Linked DNA regions of Homo sapiens. The protein of the gene in region 1 interacts with the protein of each later gene in a pairwise test. Each region holds a gene or a part of one and is shown in the gene's direction. Other genes may lie near its edges.

Evidence for each region. Proteins that work in one complex are often made in the same cells at the same time.
Region 2: the proteins of RNF111 (region 1) and NDRG1 interact in binary tests that used the Homo sapiens proteins (3 or more experiments, as listed by UniProt).
Region 3: the proteins of RNF111 (region 1) and EDARADD interact in binary tests that used the Homo sapiens proteins (3 or more experiments, as listed by UniProt).

Annotation. Positions count from the first base shown.
Region 1 is NC_000015.10:59,088,658-59,095,691, forward strand, and holds part of RNF111 (E3 ubiquitin-protein ligase Arkadia), read left to right. Parts: intron 1-1,009; coding exon 1,010-1,102; intron 1,103-2,401; coding exon 2,402-2,497; intron 2,498-3,855; coding exon of another isoform or gene 3,856-3,879; coding exon 3,880-3,983; intron 3,984-6,125; coding exon 6,126-6,243; 3' UTR 6,244-7,034. UniProt on the Homo sapiens protein: E3 ubiquitin-protein ligase. Required for mesoderm patterning during embryonic development. Acts as an enhancer of the transcriptional responses of the SMAD2/SMAD3 effectors, which are activated downstream of BMP.
Region 2 is NC_000008.11:133,287,251-133,294,284, reverse strand, and holds part of NDRG1 (protein NDRG1), read left to right. Parts: intron 1-7,034. UniProt on the Homo sapiens protein: Stress-responsive protein involved in hormone responses, cell growth, and differentiation. Acts as a tumor suppressor in many cell types. Necessary but not sufficient for p53/TP53-mediated caspase activation and apoptosis.
Region 3 is NC_000001.11:236,481,254-236,485,432, forward strand, and holds the end of EDARADD (ectodysplasin-A receptor-associated adapter protein), read left to right. Parts: intron 1-1,013; coding exon 1,014-1,396; 3' UTR 1,397-3,677; downstream 3,678-4,179. UniProt on the Homo sapiens protein: Adapter protein that interacts with EDAR DEATH domain and couples the receptor to EDA signaling pathway during morphogenesis of ectodermal organs. Mediates the activation of NF-kappa-B.

The DNA of each region.
Region 1 (7,034 bases):
TGATCTATACAGTTGCTGCAAACACTGAATTAGCAAATATGGGACCCTTGCAAACCTCTGTTCACAACTAATCAGTGTATAACCTTTTTTATGTGTGTTTCTGCTTAAAGACAACTTTAAAAAATATTGTAGAATCATTAACATTGAACTCATAGCCAACAACACTGTAACTCATGCGTGAATGAAACTTATTCTCTCCATAAGGTGTATGACAGCCTTCTTTGCTTAGGAACACTAGACAGCACTTCAGCTCTATGCTTGGGTGCCATTTTAAACAACACAATCACCAACAAAAAGCACAAAACTGTGAAAAACGTGGCACTAAACAGTCTGCAAACAAGACACTGGTTTATAGTAGGAGCTCAAATACGGCAGAGCCCTGTTCTACCTCAGCTGGGAACAGAGTTGCATGTTGGGCAACTGCAATTTTTTGCCACCGGTCATATCCACGAATGACTCTGAAAGCACAAGTGTTGATTATGGGGTTACAAGTAAATTTTAGCCTGTGGGTCAGTTCACACATATGTAATCCATAAATAATGAAGATTGACTGTAACTAACAAAAAATTAGAAAACAGTGTTAAAAGTTTCCCTAATAGAATCAAGCAAAAAAGGCATAGGGTACTTTGGCTGTTAGGAAGCTTAACAGAAGTGAAGTAAAAAACTTATCTTGAAGTCGAATTTTGTTGGAAAATTGTGTGCATTTTTTGTTGTTGTTTTAATAAAGCTCTCTGAAATGGACAGGATCTTAAGACAATTTTACTCTTTTCAAGTTTGAGCTACTAAGAGCCTCAGGCTTAAGTTTGGGCATTTTGGAGAGTTAGGTTATATTTTAACAGAAACCTAAACCTGTTACAGAATGCTTAGTTGGAGTTATGTATTCTTATTGAAGTCAAATTTTATGAGCAGTTGAATTGAAAACATTGAGGGTCTTGAATTATTCAATGTTAACAGTAAATCACAAGTCTATTCTTAAAATTGATTTAGCCTATCTCTTCTGTTGAAATAGGTTCCTGATATGGCAGGCTATCCTCACATCCGTTACATTTCATCAGGATTGGATGGAACATCATTCAGAGGTCCTTTCAGGGGCAATTTTGAGGTATGTAATAAAATAAATGAATATGTTTGTCACAGTATCTTTAATGCAGATTGAGTATATATATACTACTATACACAATTGTGTAGGACTGCTACAGTGGCTGGGAATCACATGTGATTTTCTGATGTTGCTTCTGGGAGTTACAGAAATATTTGTAAGTATTATTAATCTTAGGGTCAAAAGTTACCGAAATATTTAAAGATGAGTAAATGAAAATATCTAATATAGAAGAATATAAAAATGTATTAAATCAATATAAATGTCAGATATATAACTATACCATTAAATGTGGTGGGGAACGGAATGTTTTTGACTCAGCTAAATTTTTAGAGAAATCGGTAGAGAAAAAGAAACTTAAGTAATTCCCTTTGTAGCTAAATGTCTTGTTTGAATTTTCAGGAAGAACAAATCATTCGAATGGGATTTAAAGTTTTGTTGTGGTTTGTTTTTTTGTTTGTTTGTTTGTTTGTTTGTTGTTGTTGTTTTTTTAGATGGAGTCTTGCTCTGTCACCCAGACTGGAGTGCAGTTGCACAATCTCAGCTCACTGCAACCTGCGCCTCCTGGGTTCAAGCAATTCTCCTGCCTCGGCTTCCTGAGTAGCTGGGATTACAGGTGCCCGCCACCACGCCCGGCTAATTTTTGTATTTTTAGTAGAGATAGTGTTTTGCCATGTTGGCCAGGCTGCTCTTGAACTCCTGACCTCAAGTGATCCACCCACCTTGGCCTCCCAAAGTACTGGGATTACAGGCGCAAGCCACCGCACCCGGCCCCCGTTGTGTTTTTTTTATGTCAGTTTGGAAGTTGGAGTCATTGTGACTTAGAACTATTGTTTGATTTGGTTCCTTAATTTACTAGAATTATTTCATCTTCTCCATACATACATACATACTGACTTACATAGTACCATGTGATAATATTGTTGTAATTTATAAAGATAACTTTTGCTGTACCATTTCAGTTGGCTGAGGAAAACATGATAAACAACCATTTGCCTTACTGTCTATGAGAAACATTAAGTCAGGCATGGTGGCTCACACCTGTAATCTCAGCAGTTTAGGAGGCCGAGGTGGGAGGATCACTTGAGGCCAGGAGTTTGAGACCAGCCTGGGCAACATATAAACTGTTTTATATATATACTTATATATAAGTAACCACTTGTCATGTGTAAGTTTTTTTGAACACTGTATTTATATTGCAAGTTTCTAAGTATGGAGGTTTATTTCTTATACAATGTTGACAGTTCTGTTCAAGGAATAATCATCTTGGCTTTTACCAGTCATTATATTCTTCACTTTCAGGAACTGATTCATTTGGAAGAAAGATTAGGCAATGTCAATCGTGGAGCATCCCAGGGGACAATTGAAAGATGTACATATCCACATAAATACAAAAAGGTAAGAATTTATTCTATGAAACTTCTGGAGTGTTACTGAAAGGCATAAATGTAATATATACCTTTTTTGAATTTGTAGACTCTAGCAATGACATTTTTATTGAAGTAATGCATACATATTGTTTAAAAATTTTGGAAAGTATAAAAAATATATACTTTGCAGTTTTTTACTCTGCAGACCCTAGTCCTTCTTCCCAGAAGTGAAATCATAGTTAAGGATTTAGATATTCTTCTAGATATTTTTTAGCATTTTCTAATAATGTGCATATGTATATATATTTTTGTCTACTTTAAAAAAAACACAAAAGGAGATGATTACCACATAGTTTGCAGATTGCCTTTCATGCCAATTAGCTCCCACAGATCACCCTTATTATTTTTAATAGCTTATGCAGAATTCCATCATATGGCAGTACTGTAATTTTTTTAACTAGCAATTTATTTTGACGGACATTTTATTGATGTATGTTTCTTCTACTCTACCCTCAGTTGCTTGTATAGCATTATACAGTTATGGGGTAGACATGTTAAATACGTGTCTTAAACCATGCTCAATACCAACGGTCCCCAACCTTTTTGACACCAGGGACCAGTTTTCATGGAAGACAATTTTTCATGGATAGGTGGCAGAGGGGATAGTTTCAGAATGAAACTATTCCACCTCAGATTATCAGGCATTAGTTAGATTCTCTTAAGGAGCATGCAACCTAGATCCCTCACATGCACAGTTTACAATAGGGTTCACGCTTCTATGAGAATCTATCGCTGCTGCTGATCTGACAGGAGGAAGAGCTCCAGCAGTGATGCTCGCTCACCTGCCACTCACCTCCTGCTGTGCAGCCAGGTACTGGTTTGCAGCCCAGGGGTTGGAGACTCCTTTATACTATGTAAAGAATAATCATAAAGTGTGAAAATTACTATTCTCTGTATTTTTCATCTATTTTCAAAGAGTATTGAGGTATTACCAGTACATTCAAGTTTTCAACTGTCCAAGTTAAATACTGTAACTAATGTTAATTTAAATGGATGTTACTTGAAACATTCACTAATAAAAAAAACTTATTTATGCTCATGGTAGGATAAAAATAGTTTATATTGTTTATCATTCTCATTGTGGATTAAAAGTAATAGCTTTTAAGTGAATGAATTTCTGTTAAATTTGATTTTGCTTTTGATCCCAATTATTAGAGGGTCTTAAAAATATACTTAATTGATGATAGTCACTTAATTCATCCATTTATTTATGACAGTCTTACCTGGGAAAAAAGTGCGGGTGAATATGTGGTTTTGTTTTGTTTTGTTTTTCAAATAAACACAGACTTTACTCAGTTGTTCAATAATGTCATCTCTACTAATAAGGTAACAACTGATTGGTTCTCACAGAGGAAACTGCACTGCAAACAAGATGGGGAAGAAGGGACTGAGGAAGACACAGAGGAAAAATGTACTATCTGTTTGTCTATTTTAGAGGAAGGTGAAGATGTGAGGTAACTAGATATTAATTATCTAAAATCCATTGTCAAAACTGTACATGGGATTTTATTTGAAAAGTAAATTACACCGGGCATGATGGCTCACACGTGTAATTCCAGCACTTTTTGAGGCCAAGGCCAGAGGCTCTCTTGAGGCCAGGAGTTTGAGGCCAACCTGGGCAACATAACAAGACTCTGTTTCTACAAAAAAGAAAAATAGTACAATTATTTGCATGTGATGGTGTGCACCTGCAGTGCCAGCTACTCAGGAGACTAAGGCAGGAGGATGGCTCAAGCCCAGGAGTTTGAGACTGCAGTGAGCTTTGAGCACACCACACTGCACTCCAGCCTGGGCAATAGAGTGAGACCCTGTCTCTGAAAAAAAAGAGTAAAAGTAAACTGGAAACCAAATAAAGATTACTTTTGGCATATACTGTTACCAATTTCTGGCACGTAGAACTGGCTTCATCTGGCGAGTGAAACAATAAAAGATTAAAGTATCTATGTTACCAACATGGGAGTGGGAAATATACTGCCTATTGTAGGGCCACACAAGGTTTGGCCAGGGAAATTTCGTAGTCAAAATTGTCTTCTGTAAATCTTGCAGAAATGAGAATTTGAGAGGCTTTGGAGGTCCTAGAAAGTTATAATGTGTTCTTCAAAACTTAAACAGGGATCCAGATTAGTCCTATGCAGTCTGTTTTACAGCATCTTTTTTTTTTTTTTTTTTTTTTTTCCTTTTCTGGGAGATGGTCTCCTTCTGTTGCCCAGGCTCAGGGCAGCAGTCTCAGCTCACTGCAACCTCCACCTCCTGGGCTGAAGCGATCCACCTACCTCAGCCTCCCAAAATGCTGGGATTACAGGCGTAAGCCACTGCACTCGGCTATAGCATCTTTTATAAACTGGTTTTGTCATAAAATTTCCTCTAAACTAGTAGGACTATTCCCTTCTTGCACCTTTGTTGTTTAGAAAATGTTAATATGTTAACCCTATATTAATTTTAGGCATTTTCTTTGTATAATCACTTAAGTAATTGTTTTCTTCCTGTTCTTTTTTTTAATGTTAACATAATGCCATATGAAACAGGTTCTATATCATATATAACAGAACCTTGTAGTAATATTATTGCCCTAATTTATAAGGATAACTTTGTCGTACCTCTTCAGTTGGCTGAGAAAAAAATTGTCTACCATACGACAAATAAGGTTTTTTGCACACTGTATTTCTAATGAAGGTTTATAAATTTGGAACTTAATTGCTTTTACAGTATTGACAATACTGTTCAAGGAATAATTGGGATACTTTTTAAGGCTATTATTTTAACAAGATATTAGGAAGTCTGAAAAGTGTATAAAAACTCTTAACAGTTGCTAGAAGTAGAAATGGACACGAGTCAGTAACTTTTATTCCACTGTTAACACTCAGATTTAATGTTACCCTATCTTGCTTGGGGGCTTTATTTCTCAATTTCTAATTGGTAATTTGGCATGATGTAAACAAACAAATCATTACATCTCCTTTTAACTTACCTGTTAAACAGTAGCACAATATTAAGTGTATATAACAATTATTCCGTGAAAAAAGTATTACTCACCTTTAATCAGTTATGTACTTAAGTTTAATGTGTAAAGATATTCTTGATAGAAAATAACATTGCACAATAAGACATTTTTTAGTGAGGAAAGTGTAGTTACTATATATTTGCCACATGAATTGTAATGTTTTTGAGAGAGAATTAAATGATGTAATAAATATATATTTGAGATAATATGTATTTTTAAAGGGCATTACAAATACAGTGATGATTTGATTTTTAAAAATATATTTGCAATATTATGTGACAGGTAACATACTGCTAACTCCAGGGCATTGGCAGCTCCTGTACCAAAACAAAACTGGAATAATTGGCAGTGTAATTTGTGTTCTTACAGTTTTTAAGATTTTATATAATTTGGTCCTGTAGCTTTGAAAGTTAATTATCTTGATCATTTATATATTATATTGCCCAGAGTGCTAATTTAATCGATGTGTTTTTTATAGAAGAGGAAGATGCTTAGTACCTTCAAAACATTATTGAATTATTACATATATAATTTGTTAACTACGTACAATTATCATAAAATTAATTTTTGCTTTTTGTTTTCTTGCCAATAATAGACGTCTTCCATGTATGCACCTTTTCCACCAAGTGTGTGTTGACCAATGGTTGATTACCAATAAGAAGTGCCCCATATGCAGAGTGGACATTGAGGCCCAGCTGCCAAGTGAAAGTTGACACCATGTTTCAGAACTCTTGCCCTCCCTCTCATTCCCATCCTTCCTGGTACTGCAGTCAACCAAAGATGGCATGACTTACCTGCGCAGATTTGGAAGCATTGAACTTAGAGTGCTGGCTCTGCTATATGGTACAACTAATGCTAGACCTACAGTTTATGTATACAGTTGATTTTGATGTATTTATAAAAGCTTTTTTTTCTAGATTTGACATTTTTCTGTATCATTTTACTGTATTTTTGCATGGTTCCTTGTATTGCATTTCTTTGCACATATTATGGGCTTGTGACCCTAAACTTGCAGGCAAGGTTAGCTGCTTTAGTAAGTAGAATTTTGTGGTCTTTTTGTTTTTTACATAGTACCAAGCCTTGATAATTATGAATTTTTTATCCATTACTAACCTTTAATTTAATCAATCATGTACTTTAGTTTAATGTATAAAGATCCTCTAGAAAATGATAATATTGTGTATTAAGACATTCCTTAATTAGGACAAAATGGCTGCTGTATATTTACTATATGGAGTTCTGAGTTAAATACCATCCTTAATACTGGGAACAGAATACAACCCATATAAATCAGATGCAGGTGGTAGTCACATCACCAGAGTGATCAGTATAAATTTTCTTGGTGTATCCTTTTCCTTTCAACACAGTGCAGATAAGAGTTGAATATTGATATCATACATTTAGACTGCTGTTCTGATTGCATTTATCTTTTTCCTACATCATTTAGAATTTTATTTCCCTGATTCAGTTTTTGCTGCTGTGAAACAGCTCTGATGAACACTAA
Region 2 (7,034 bases), on another chromosome or scaffold:
AGGCCAGGAGAGTTTCAGGATTTGCCTGTTGCCATATGGCTCAGGTGGGAGAGCCAGACTTTGAACCCGGACAGTTGGACTTCAGAGCCTTTGTTTTTTTTCCATGACAACATGTTGGGGCGCCTGAAGAAATCAGGCTCAAATGAAAAGGCAGTCAGGAGCTCCATGCCTCAGTTTGCTTTTCTGTAAAATGAGAGTAACAGACATGATGCCATCAGAATGTGTAAATATTAATCTGTGTAACCTGAGAACAGCACTGAGCATGTGGAAAACAGCGTGTAGGTGTTTGCCGTCAGTAGCACCCGCAGAAGACATTCTCAAGGCATCTTCTTGGCAGGCAGAGTCTGGGACCCTTTGTCCTAAACCTACCCAAGGCTGTGAAAGTGCCTGCAAATGCTTGACCTAGGTATTGCTTTTTGCTAAGCTTATGTAGGTTGCATAATAGTGTCATGAAAATCTTGTCTGAAATGCACATTTCCAGGCCCGGTCTCCTGCGATTCTCTCTCCATCAGGGGATATGCTGTTGTTTCAAAGCTCCTTTGGCTGGGTTGGGAATGGGGTATCCTGCAGGCAGACAGAGTTGAGAACCTCTGCTCTGGAATGACAGGGGAGAGAAGAAGGAAGGTGTAGTCATACATGCCGCTGTACCTTCAGGCCACCCTGTGTCCACAGTGCCAGGGAATTAGTGAGTGCTCAGTAAATAGCTCTTGTTTGCTATAGTGCCTTGGAGGTTCAATGCATCACATCAGCTAACTGAGGTAGAAGACATTCTTTCCACCTCTCAGGTCAGAAAATTGAGGCTCAGGCTGGTGACTCTTCTGTCCAGAGTCCAGTGAGTGGGGTTCTGCCCAAGGTGAGCCTCCTGAGCCCTTTCCACCCTCCAACATTGCGCTTGGAGGCCACCCACACCCTCTGGGCCCACCTTTTGAGAAGGAGCTTGTTTCCTGGATCCACCCCAGGCTGTTGTTCCTGCCTCCCTTGATGGCTGTGTGATGGAAGTACCGCGTGTCCACTTGCTTTTTATCTTTCAACTTGGAGATAGAGGCAGGCTAGATAGCGGTCTTGGCTGAGAACTTAGCCCAGGCAGGTAGGCAGAAGGGCTGGGGACACTGAGGCCCCACAGGAAGGCGGCTGCAGAGGTAGAGGGCCATGAGTAGGTGCCAACCTGGAGCCGTGTTCTCGGGGTGGGGGCCATGTGAAAAGAAACCTGGGCTCCCTCGGGTGGGGCGTAAGCCCCAGCACTACAGAATGGGAATGGATTACACAATCGGGGCCATAAGCAGGTCTCTTTGACCCAGATCTTTGACTTTCCCACCTAACATTGTTTGCAGACCTGCCTATGCCCTACCTGCCTGGGCTCCATCTCTGACCTTTTGAGTCCAGCGGGTTTTCTTGCAACTGAGCTGGTAGAAAGTGAGGCTCCTTAACAGTCTGGGGGCCTTGAGTGCCCTCCCCAGCAGTTTAATCTTTCCTTTCTTTAAATCTGTGGGGAGACTTTCTGCAGCTATACATTTTAAATCTGCATAGAGTTCTGTTTGAAGAGAGGTGGGTGGGGGCCCAGGTCTCCACCTTGTTCTCCTGCCTTCACCCTCTGCCCCACCCCCACGGAACCTAAGAAGATTCCAAGTAACCCTCTTCAAATATGGATGTGAGAGGGCCATTTAAGAGGTGGGTCTATGGCCTCTCTCAGCTGGGAATGCTTACCATCTCTCCTTCCTCCTTTTTAATCATGGAACTCTCCTCCTTTCTCCAGAAAGGCCTCCTTGGCTGTCCTCTGCTGGAGGGGAGGCTGGGTTGGGTCCTTCCTGGGACCTGTCCATGTCTCCCATGAAACCTGAGAGCCTGTCCTTAGTAGGTGTTGTGTTAGTGGTGGTGGAAAGGACATCTCCACTGATTAAGGAAGTAACTTGGACCATCTTGCATAGACAAGATCGGAGGCCCATTCCGGAGGGTGGAAACTGCAAGACCATTCTGGGGAAGGATCCTGTTAGCGTGGCTAGCATCCCATCTCGGGACAAAGGGTTCTGTATGAGGAAGCCATTTCCTCGTCCTCTGCTAACACTGGCTCCGTTTGTGTGATTTCCACAAATTATCTCAGACCATCCAGCGCAGCTCATGCCTGTCTTGCAATTTCACAAAATAATCCTCTAAGGAGACCAGTGTCCTCCTTTGGACTTCCAGTTATTCACCTCGTCCCCTCAGACGGTCGTCTTCTGTCTGCCAAACAAATTACTCGTGCTGCCAAAACTCCACTGAGAATCTCCAGGAAGATCTCGGTTGTATTGCAGAAAAGAGGTGGGCCCTGACGAGATTCCTGACACCTCCCTCTTCCTGCTGTTGTGTTTGGGACACTCTTGCTGACCTCCCTGGTGCTGTGCTCAAGTTGAACACACAGCAGTTCAGTTTCAGCTCCAGCCCCTCTGGACCCACACCCAGGGAGTGAATGCGGCTTTGGCTTGTTTGAGAGGGAGACAGTGGGGTTCACCTTCTTAGTGATCCCTTTTTCATTCCTTGAATATCAAACATCACTGATGCCTCCTGGGTTTCAGGCTCCACTGCAAAGTACAGGGGCCCTCGAGGAGTTCCTACTGTGGTTTTGTTCTCTGACATTTGTACTGTTTCCTTGATTCTGATTGCTCTGATACAGTTCCCTAACCTCTAAACTAGGGAACTTTCTTGAAGGTCCAGTGAATCCACCCATATTGTTTGCTGAGTTGATTAGTTAAGAAAGACAGTTCGTGAAGACTGCCAACTTCCTCACCCTCCCCAGGGCCTTGAGTTTCAGAAGGGCCAGAAAACACCAAGAGAGCCCATGAACTGCTTTGTAGCTTGACTTCAAAATCTCTTTGGGCAAAGAAATGACAAAGGATTGTATCCACAGTAAGGCAGGGCTATCCAGGGCCTATCTCAAGGTGGTTTTCCTTGAGGTTCAGGCAGAAATGGTGCTGTTCTCGGCAATTTTCTGGGGAAGTTGCTACAGCAAACAGCCACAGCACATGTTGATTTTTTCCCTCCTTTTAAAAATCTGTTCTATAAAGAGCACAATGTGCTGGAGAGAACACTGGCTTTCATGTGGCCTTAAAACCAGGCATGTTACAGAGGGTGGAATCTGGGCCAGTTGCTGTTGGTGACAATCGATGCTACCCTTGTCAGCAATTCCCGCCTGCTCTCCCTTTATCTGCTTCACTGAAGGCCTCCAGGGGACTGTTGTCCGCCCTCCCCCGAGGGAATGAGTGCCACACCTGCACCCACAACAAACCAGTGAGTTTTTCACCTTTCCCTCAGTAGGGAGGAATCTAGACATGTGGCCTTTGGAAGTCAAGTGGGCCTTTGTGTTTGTTTTTGAGCCTCAGGTTACCCATTTGTGAACTGGGTATAATACCCAGCCTCTCCCGGGGCAACCTCCTTGAGGAGCAAGTGAAACAGTGTGCTGAGTGAATGCTTTTCCAAAGCATTGAGTTGGCCGTCTTAGGAAGGTACTATGGGGGAGCTGAAAACAGAGAACCTTCTGGGTGTTGTGAAGGGAGAAAAGTTCAAGATGCTGGTTTTGCCAAAAGCTCAAGCCTGCTCATGATGGCTCAGTGGTGACTGCAGGGTGGAGGAGAGGCATGTGACTGTCCCAGCTGACCTCCACACGCTGAAAGCCTCATGGTCACGTGCAGCCCACCTTACAACGTTGTATCTGGGCCACGGGTGGTGGTGAGGACTGTGGATATATTTAGGGCAATGTGAGATCATTGTCAACATTCCCTTTAAGGTTGCTTTAACCTTAAAGCAGCCAGCTTGATGCTTGCTGACTTGGGGCACACATCTTAACCTCTTGATGCCTCAGTTTCCCCGTCTGTTAAATGGTGACATGCTGGCACCTCCCTCCTAGGGTTTCTGTGAGGCTTAAAGGAAGTACCGGGTTTAGAGTCCAGTTAGTGCCACAGATACTGTTCCTGGTGCTGTTTTTGTGGTGTGTCTGTGTAGGGTTACATTGTTGCCTTCCTGTGGCTGCTCTTCCTGGTGGGCGGAACCTGGAACTTCTAGAACAGATCATGGATGTTTCTCTGCTGGATACCCCTTCAGCCTCACCCTGTGGGAGTTGTGGCGGGGCCCAGGAGAGTTTGCTCAAGAGGGTGTGCAGGTGGGTGGCAGAGCTGGAGCAAGGCACTAGTCTTAACAGACAGGAGTCTGAGGCTGGCAGAAGTGGGGGCCTTGGTCCAAGGTGCGGGGCTAATCTGGCCAGAGCTGAGCCTGGCAGGGCCTTGGTAAGACCCTGTGGCCCTTTTGTCTTGGTGAAGCACCTTCCTGCCTGGGTTTCCATTTGCCTGTAAGTTTGTTGTGGACAGCGTGATCTCCATAGACGTACACTGTGCCTACTTTACAGATGGAGAAACCAAGGCCCAGAGAGGAAGTGACTTGCTCAGAGTCATGGAATAGGAAAGTGGCAGGGTCCCCATGCCCTGATTCCTAGGCCAGCGTTCCTGCTGCCCCACTGAGGTTTTTGGGAATCACAGGCTCTGTGTGTCCCCCTCAGTCCCCCAGGGGCTGTTGAACAGTTCTCAAGTGGTGTCGGATTACTGAAGATGCCTCTGCCCACTGCCCTCCCAGGTCCCAGGGTCACGGGTCACGTTCTTTTCTTCCTCGGGCAGATCCTGGCCTTGGCTTTGCCTGGCACCTGTGATCCAGCTCTCCTCTGACTCTCCTGGGTCTGCTGGACTGGAAGGGTATTTGTGTAGCCCCTCTTGGGCCCTCATTACTCATTGACAGACAGTGCTGGTGGAGAGAAGGGCCCCAGTGGTGACGCACTGGGCCTGATAATCAGAAACCTTGGTGGCATTTGCTGAGCATTTTCCATGTGTCCCTCTCCTCGCTGGGACTCTAGGACTGAAACCCAGGCCACATCCTCACAGATGTCCTGGCATCTCCAAGGCAACCCTGAAAGGAAAGTATGTTGATGAATTAAGCAACTGTTTGCTTAATTCTCCATGCCATTCTTGAATTTAAGCCCCACTGCTGATCATTGGGAGCAGGAGTTAGCATGCCCATTGACAGACAAGCAAACTGAGGCAAAGAGGTTAGATAGCCAGGCATGGTGGCATATGCCTGTAATCTCAGCTACTCAGGAGGCCGGAGTAGGAGGATCACTTGAACCCAGGAGTTTGAGACCAGTCTGGGCAACATAGCAAGACCCTGTCTCTCTAAAAAACAAGATGAATAATACATTTTTAAAAAGAGATTCGATAAATTATGCAGGATCACAGAGCTAATAAATGGTGACACCATGGCCTGCAAGCCTTCCCCCAGCTCCTGGCTACCTTTCGCTTCTCTGGCATTGGTCTTCTCGGAATTCCTCCCAGGCAGGTGGATGGGAAAAGAAGTGAAGATACAGGCTGGCAGCTGGTGCTGTGACCTGGAGCCCTGTTTTTGGTGCTAAGCTGGGTTTTAGCTGAAGGAGACCTGCTGGAGGGGTTTCTTCTGTGCTTCTTGGGGAGCAAAGATGGCCTTGGAGATGGAGACACGGTTTGTCAGTCCCAAGCCACTCCAAAGGTGGGGCTGGTGGGCTAGGAGTCAGCCCTGGTTCCCCCGCCATGCTGTGTGTGGCCCTGCCTTGCCACCCCACCTGCTGGAGGACCTCTTTGATGCTTTCTAGTGGGTCCCAACATTCTGTGATTAGGACTTTGCATGAGGCAGAGGGAGGGCAGGAGCTGGAGTCCAGCAAGGACCTCAAGCCCAGGGACAGGCTCCACCTGCCACACTTGCTAAGCCGTGAGGGCCTCAGGTGCCCGGGAGGAGGGAGCAGGAGTGGAAGCACCAGCTCGAGCCGCCAAACCAGGTCACGTATCACCTGCCATTTCCTGCTGGCAGAAGGAGATCACAGACACCAGAAGACAGCAGCTTCTGCCAGAACTGGGTCCTTCCATGATTCTCAGGTGGTGACTTTGAATCCCAGAAAAAGTGTTTTGGGGAGAGTGGAGTGAAGGAAGAGTGTGAACATTGGATCTGACTCCACTCCAGCCCCTGTGCTGCAGCCAGCAGGGTGAGCTCAGGACAGCTGGCAGCCGCTTGGGCCCAGCCCCCTCCTCCGTGAATGAAGGTGGTGGGGAGTGCACGTGTGCGTGTGAGTGCGTGTGAGTATAAATGACTGTGGATGTGAGAGTCCATGAAAGTGAGAATGTATCAGTGTGTAAGAAAGTGTGAGTATGTGAGAATGAGTGTGTTTGTGAGAATGTATGTATGTGTGAGTATAAGTGTGTGAATGTGAGAATGTCTGAGTGTGAGAATGAAAGTTTGCAAGTGTGTCAGTGTGAGGGAATGTGTGAGTGCATTTGAGAGTGTGTGTGTGTGTGTGTGCGTGTGTGCACGCATGCACTAGATTAAATAAGAATGCATCCAACTGACATTTTCTGGATACTGTTACCTACTAGGAATTACTAAAATCAGCTATTCCAGAGGAGGGTGGATGTCGCACCAGGGGACATTTGGCAACGTTTGCAGATTCTTTTGCTGGTCGCAGCGTGGGGTGTATGCTGTGGGCATGTGGTGGGCAGAGGCCAGGGATGCTGCTGAGCCTCCTCCCGTGCTCAGGGCAGCCCCTAAGGCAGAGGCTGCTTGTGGGGCCCAAATGTCAGCAGTGCTGAGCTGAGGATCTCTGTCCAGGAGGCACAGACGCTGTCCTGGATGCTGTCCAGACAGCATCTGCTCTGCCCTCCAGGGGGACAGACAGACAGTGGACACAGCCCAGATGCAGCCTGATGAGTGAGCCCAAGGGAGTGCCTGTCCCCTCGGGACTGTGAGCTCCGTGGGGGCAGGAACTGGGTCTGTTTGCTCATGATCCCCAGATGAGTCCCATAGCCAGTCTCATCACCATAGCTGGTGTTATTTTTGTTCTGAGCTCTGTGTTGGGCACATAGAACCTAGTGGGTAGAAACCTCTGAATAAATCCTGAGTTTTCCATCCTGCTTCCGTGAACTCAGATGTTCTTTGAGGGCCAGCCTGGTGGCGTGGGGGCTGGGAGTGGGCAGATTGTAGGGAGCCAAGTCCTGGGG
Region 3 (4,179 bases), on another chromosome or scaffold:
AAAGGGCAAGGGCTGAGGTGCATGCAAGTGTCGGCTGGTTACTCACAGACACAGCAGCCCCTTTTACCCCGGAGAGAGTTCTGTTTGCTGGAGCCCTTATTCTGGCCAGCAGTGTCACAAATGCACACTGTAAGACATAGACAGTCTTGGAAAGAAAGGGAAACTGGCTTTAAAAATTCTTACTCCTTCTAGCAAAGCAATTCATCTTTGGCTATAAAGAATAACACAGCCAGGTGCGGTGGCTCATGCTTGTAATCCCAGCACTTTGGGAGGTCAAGGTGGGCAGATCACTTGAGTCTAGGAGTTCAAGACCAGCCTGGGAAACATGGTGAAACCCCACCTCTACCAAAAAAAAAAAAAAGAAAGAAAGAAAAGATTAGCCAGGTTTGGTGGTACGTGCCTGTAGTCCCAGGTACTCGGGAAGCTGAGGTGGGAGGATCGCTTGAGCCTGGAGGGCGGAGGTTGCAGTGAGCCGAGATCATGCCACTGCACTCCAGCCTGGGCAACAGAGTGACACCCTGTATCAAAAAAAAAAAAAAAAAAGAACAGTAACACATTATTAGAAATGAGCATTCTGAGGCCAGGCACGGTGGCTCATGCCTATAATCGCAGCACTTTGGGAGGCCGAGGCGGGTGGATCACAAGGTCAGGAGATCGAGACCATCCTGGCTAACACGGTGAAACCCCGTCTTTACTAAAAACACAAAAAATTAGCCGGGTGCAGTGGCGGGTGCCTATAGTCCCAGCTACTCAGGAGGCTGAGGCAGGAGAATGGCGTGAACCCCTGGGAGGCGGAGCTTGCAGTGAGCCGAGATAGTGCCACTGCACTCCAGCCTGGGCGAAAGAGCGAGACTCCATCTCAAAAAAAAAAAAAAAAAGAAAGAAACGAGCATTCTGAAATAGTCTTCCATATGATGCTTTTGACAATTCAGCAGGAAAATAAAGGATGTAAGAAATGAATGCATATGTTAGGCCTCTTGTTGACCTGTGGACTAAATTGTTTCTCCCTGCAGAGATCAGCAAGGACAACTCCTGCAAAGAAAACTGTACTTGTTCCTCCTGCTTGCTCCGGGCCCCCACCATAAGTGACTTGCTCAATGATCAGGACTTACTAGACGTGATCAGGATAAAGCTGGATCCGTGTCACCCAACGGTGAAAAACTGGAGGAATTTTGCAAGCAAATGGGGGATGTCCTATGACGAATTGTGCTTCCTGGAGCAGAGGCCACAGAGCCCCACCTTGGAGTTCTTGCTCCGGAACAGTCAGAGGACGGTGGGCCAGCTGATGGAGCTCTGCAGGCTCTACCACAGGGCCGACGTGGAGAAGGTTCTGCGCAGGTGGGTGGACGAGGAGTGGCCCAAGCGGGAGCGTGGAGACCCCTCCAGGCACTTCTAGAGCTCTTCTTCTTCCTTCATTGGCCTCTCCGGATGTTGAAACAACCACAGGTCAAGAAGGAATGTGAATCTGTTGTTTTATAAGAGTTTAGGACAAGGACGTGGAACAGTGGACACTGGTTTTCCCCAAAGCTGGCAGTTTTGTGGAGGGGTAGCTTGTTTCGGTGGTGGATCTCTGTTTATTTTTGCACATCTGTTATAATTTAATATTCAAATCTGGAATTAAGAAAACATATTTTCTAGTATCCTCTAAGGGCCAAAGTCCTACAATCGGAATGGATTCATGCCACGTTGAAGATAAAATTATCCTCTCTCTGAAATACGGTAAAGATTTAAATAGGTCCTGAGACTGTTGATAGCCCCAGACATACCCACAGCATTATATGTAACATCTCTCCTGATCAGTGCCATTCCCACGGTTTCAAAGAAAACAGCTACAAGGAATGCTTACCTGAGTGTCTGCAGCACCCTCCACTTCTCTCCTAGGCAATGAGACCCAGTGGCTAGAAATTCACCATGTCTATTCTCAAGATCCATGCCAGGGAGCTCTTTGACTCTCGTGGGAATCCCACTGTTGAGGTTGATCTCTTCACCTCAGAAGGTCTCTTCAGAGCTGCTGTGCCCAGTGGTGCTTCAACTGGTATCTATGAGGTCCTAGAGCTCCAGGACAATGATAAGACTCGCTATATGGGGAAGGGTGTCTCAAAGCCTGTTGAGCCCATCAATAAAACTATTGCACCTGTCCTGGTTAGCAAGAAACTGAACGTCACAGAACAAGAGAAGATTGACAAACTTATGATAGAGATGGATGGAACAGAAAATAAATCTAAATTTGGTGCAAATGCCATTCTGGGAGTGTCCCTCGCTGCCTGCAAAGCTAGTGCTGTTGAGAAGGGGGTTCCCCTGTACCACCACATCGCCGACTTGTCTGGCAACTCCAAAGTCATCTTGCCAGTCCCGGTGTTCAATGTCATCAATGGCAGTTCTCATGCTGTCACCAAGCTGGCCATGCAGGAGTTCATGGTCCTCCCAGTCGGTGCAGCAAACTTCAGGGAAGCCATGCCCATTGGAGCGGAGGTTTACCACAGCCTGAAGAATGTCATCAAGGAGAAATATGGGAAAGATGCCACCGGTGTGGGGGATGGAGGCGCGTTTGCTCCCAACATCCTGGAGAATAAAGAAGGCCTGGAGCTGCTGAAGACTGCGATTGGGAAAGCTGGCTACACTGATAAGGTGATCGTCAGCATGGACGTAGAGGCCTCCGAGTTCTTCAGGTCTGGAAAGTATGACCTGGAATTCAAGTTTCTCGACGACCCCACCAGGTACATCTCACCTGACTGTCTGGCTGACCTGTACAAGTCCTTCATCAAAAACTACCCAGTGGTGTCTACTGAAGATCCCTTTGACCAGGATGACTGGGGAGCTTGGCAGAAGTTCACGGCCAGTGCAGGAATCCAGGTAGTGGAGGATGATCTCAGAGTGACCAACCCAAAGAGGACAGCCTCGGCCGTGAATGAGAAGAAGTGCAACTGCCTCCTGCTCAAAGTGAACCAGATTCGCTCTGTGACTGAGTCCCTTCAGGCGTGCAAGCTGGCCCAGGCCAATGGTTGGTGTGTCATGGTGCCTCATCATTCTGGGGAGACTGAAAATACCTTCATCACTGACCTGGTGGTGGGGCTGTGACCTGGGCAGCTCAAGACTGGTGCCCCTTGCTGATCTGAGCGCTTGGCCAAGTACAACCAGCTCCTCAGAATTGAAGAGGAGCTGGGCAGCAAGGCTAAGTTTGCCGGCAGGAACTTCAGAAACCCCCCAGCCAAGTAAGCTGTGGGCAGGCAAGCCCTTCAGTCACCTGGTGGCTAATTAGACCCCTCCCCTTGTGTCAACTCCGGCAGCTCAAGACCCCCGAGCAACATTTGTAGGGGCCGCTGCTAGTTAGCTACCCTTGCCCACCGCCGTGGAGTTCGCACCTCTTCCTTAGAACTTCTACAGAAGCAGGTTGCAGTGAGCCGAGATTGCGCCACTGCACACCAGTCTGGAGACAGAGTGAGAGTCCGTCCCAGAAAAAAAAAAAAAAAAAAAGAACTTCTACAGAAGCCAAGCTCCCTGGAGCCCTGTTGGCAGCTCTAGCCTTGCAGTCATGTAATTGGCCCAAATCACCGGAGCCACGTGACCCTCCAGTGTCATCTCCGGGGTGGCCACAGGCAAGATCCCCAGTGATTTTGTGCTCAAAATAAAAAGCCTCATTGACCCATGAGAAAAAAGAAAACAGCAATGAGAAGTGACCCTGTCTTGTTGGTTTATTACTTTTTTTGTTATAAAGTACTTTGGTGAATTAACAGGATGCTAGTATTACATGGTGATACTCTTCAGAACACCTGCCCCATCTTTTTTATGCAAGTATGTTTACAATCAGTGGACTATCAGTAATGTCATTTGCTCAAATATTTTTTAAAGACCTACAGAAACTGATGGTTATTGGGAAAACAGTCAGGAAGTAGTGAGGTAATCAAGGCCATGGGAATAGTGTTTGACAAAGAGAGTACTCCAAATCCCTTTTGGTTACCCAGGACTTTAAAAAAGAGAGTACTCCATCACACCTGTAATCCCAGCACTTTGGGAGGCCGAGGCGGGTGGATCACGAGGTCAGGAGATCGAGACCATCATAGCTAACATGGTGAAACCCCGTCTCTACTAAAAATACAAAACATTAGCCGGGTGTGGTGGCGGGCGCCTGTAGTCCCATCTACTCAGGAGGCTGAGGCAGGAGGATGGCTTGAACCCAGG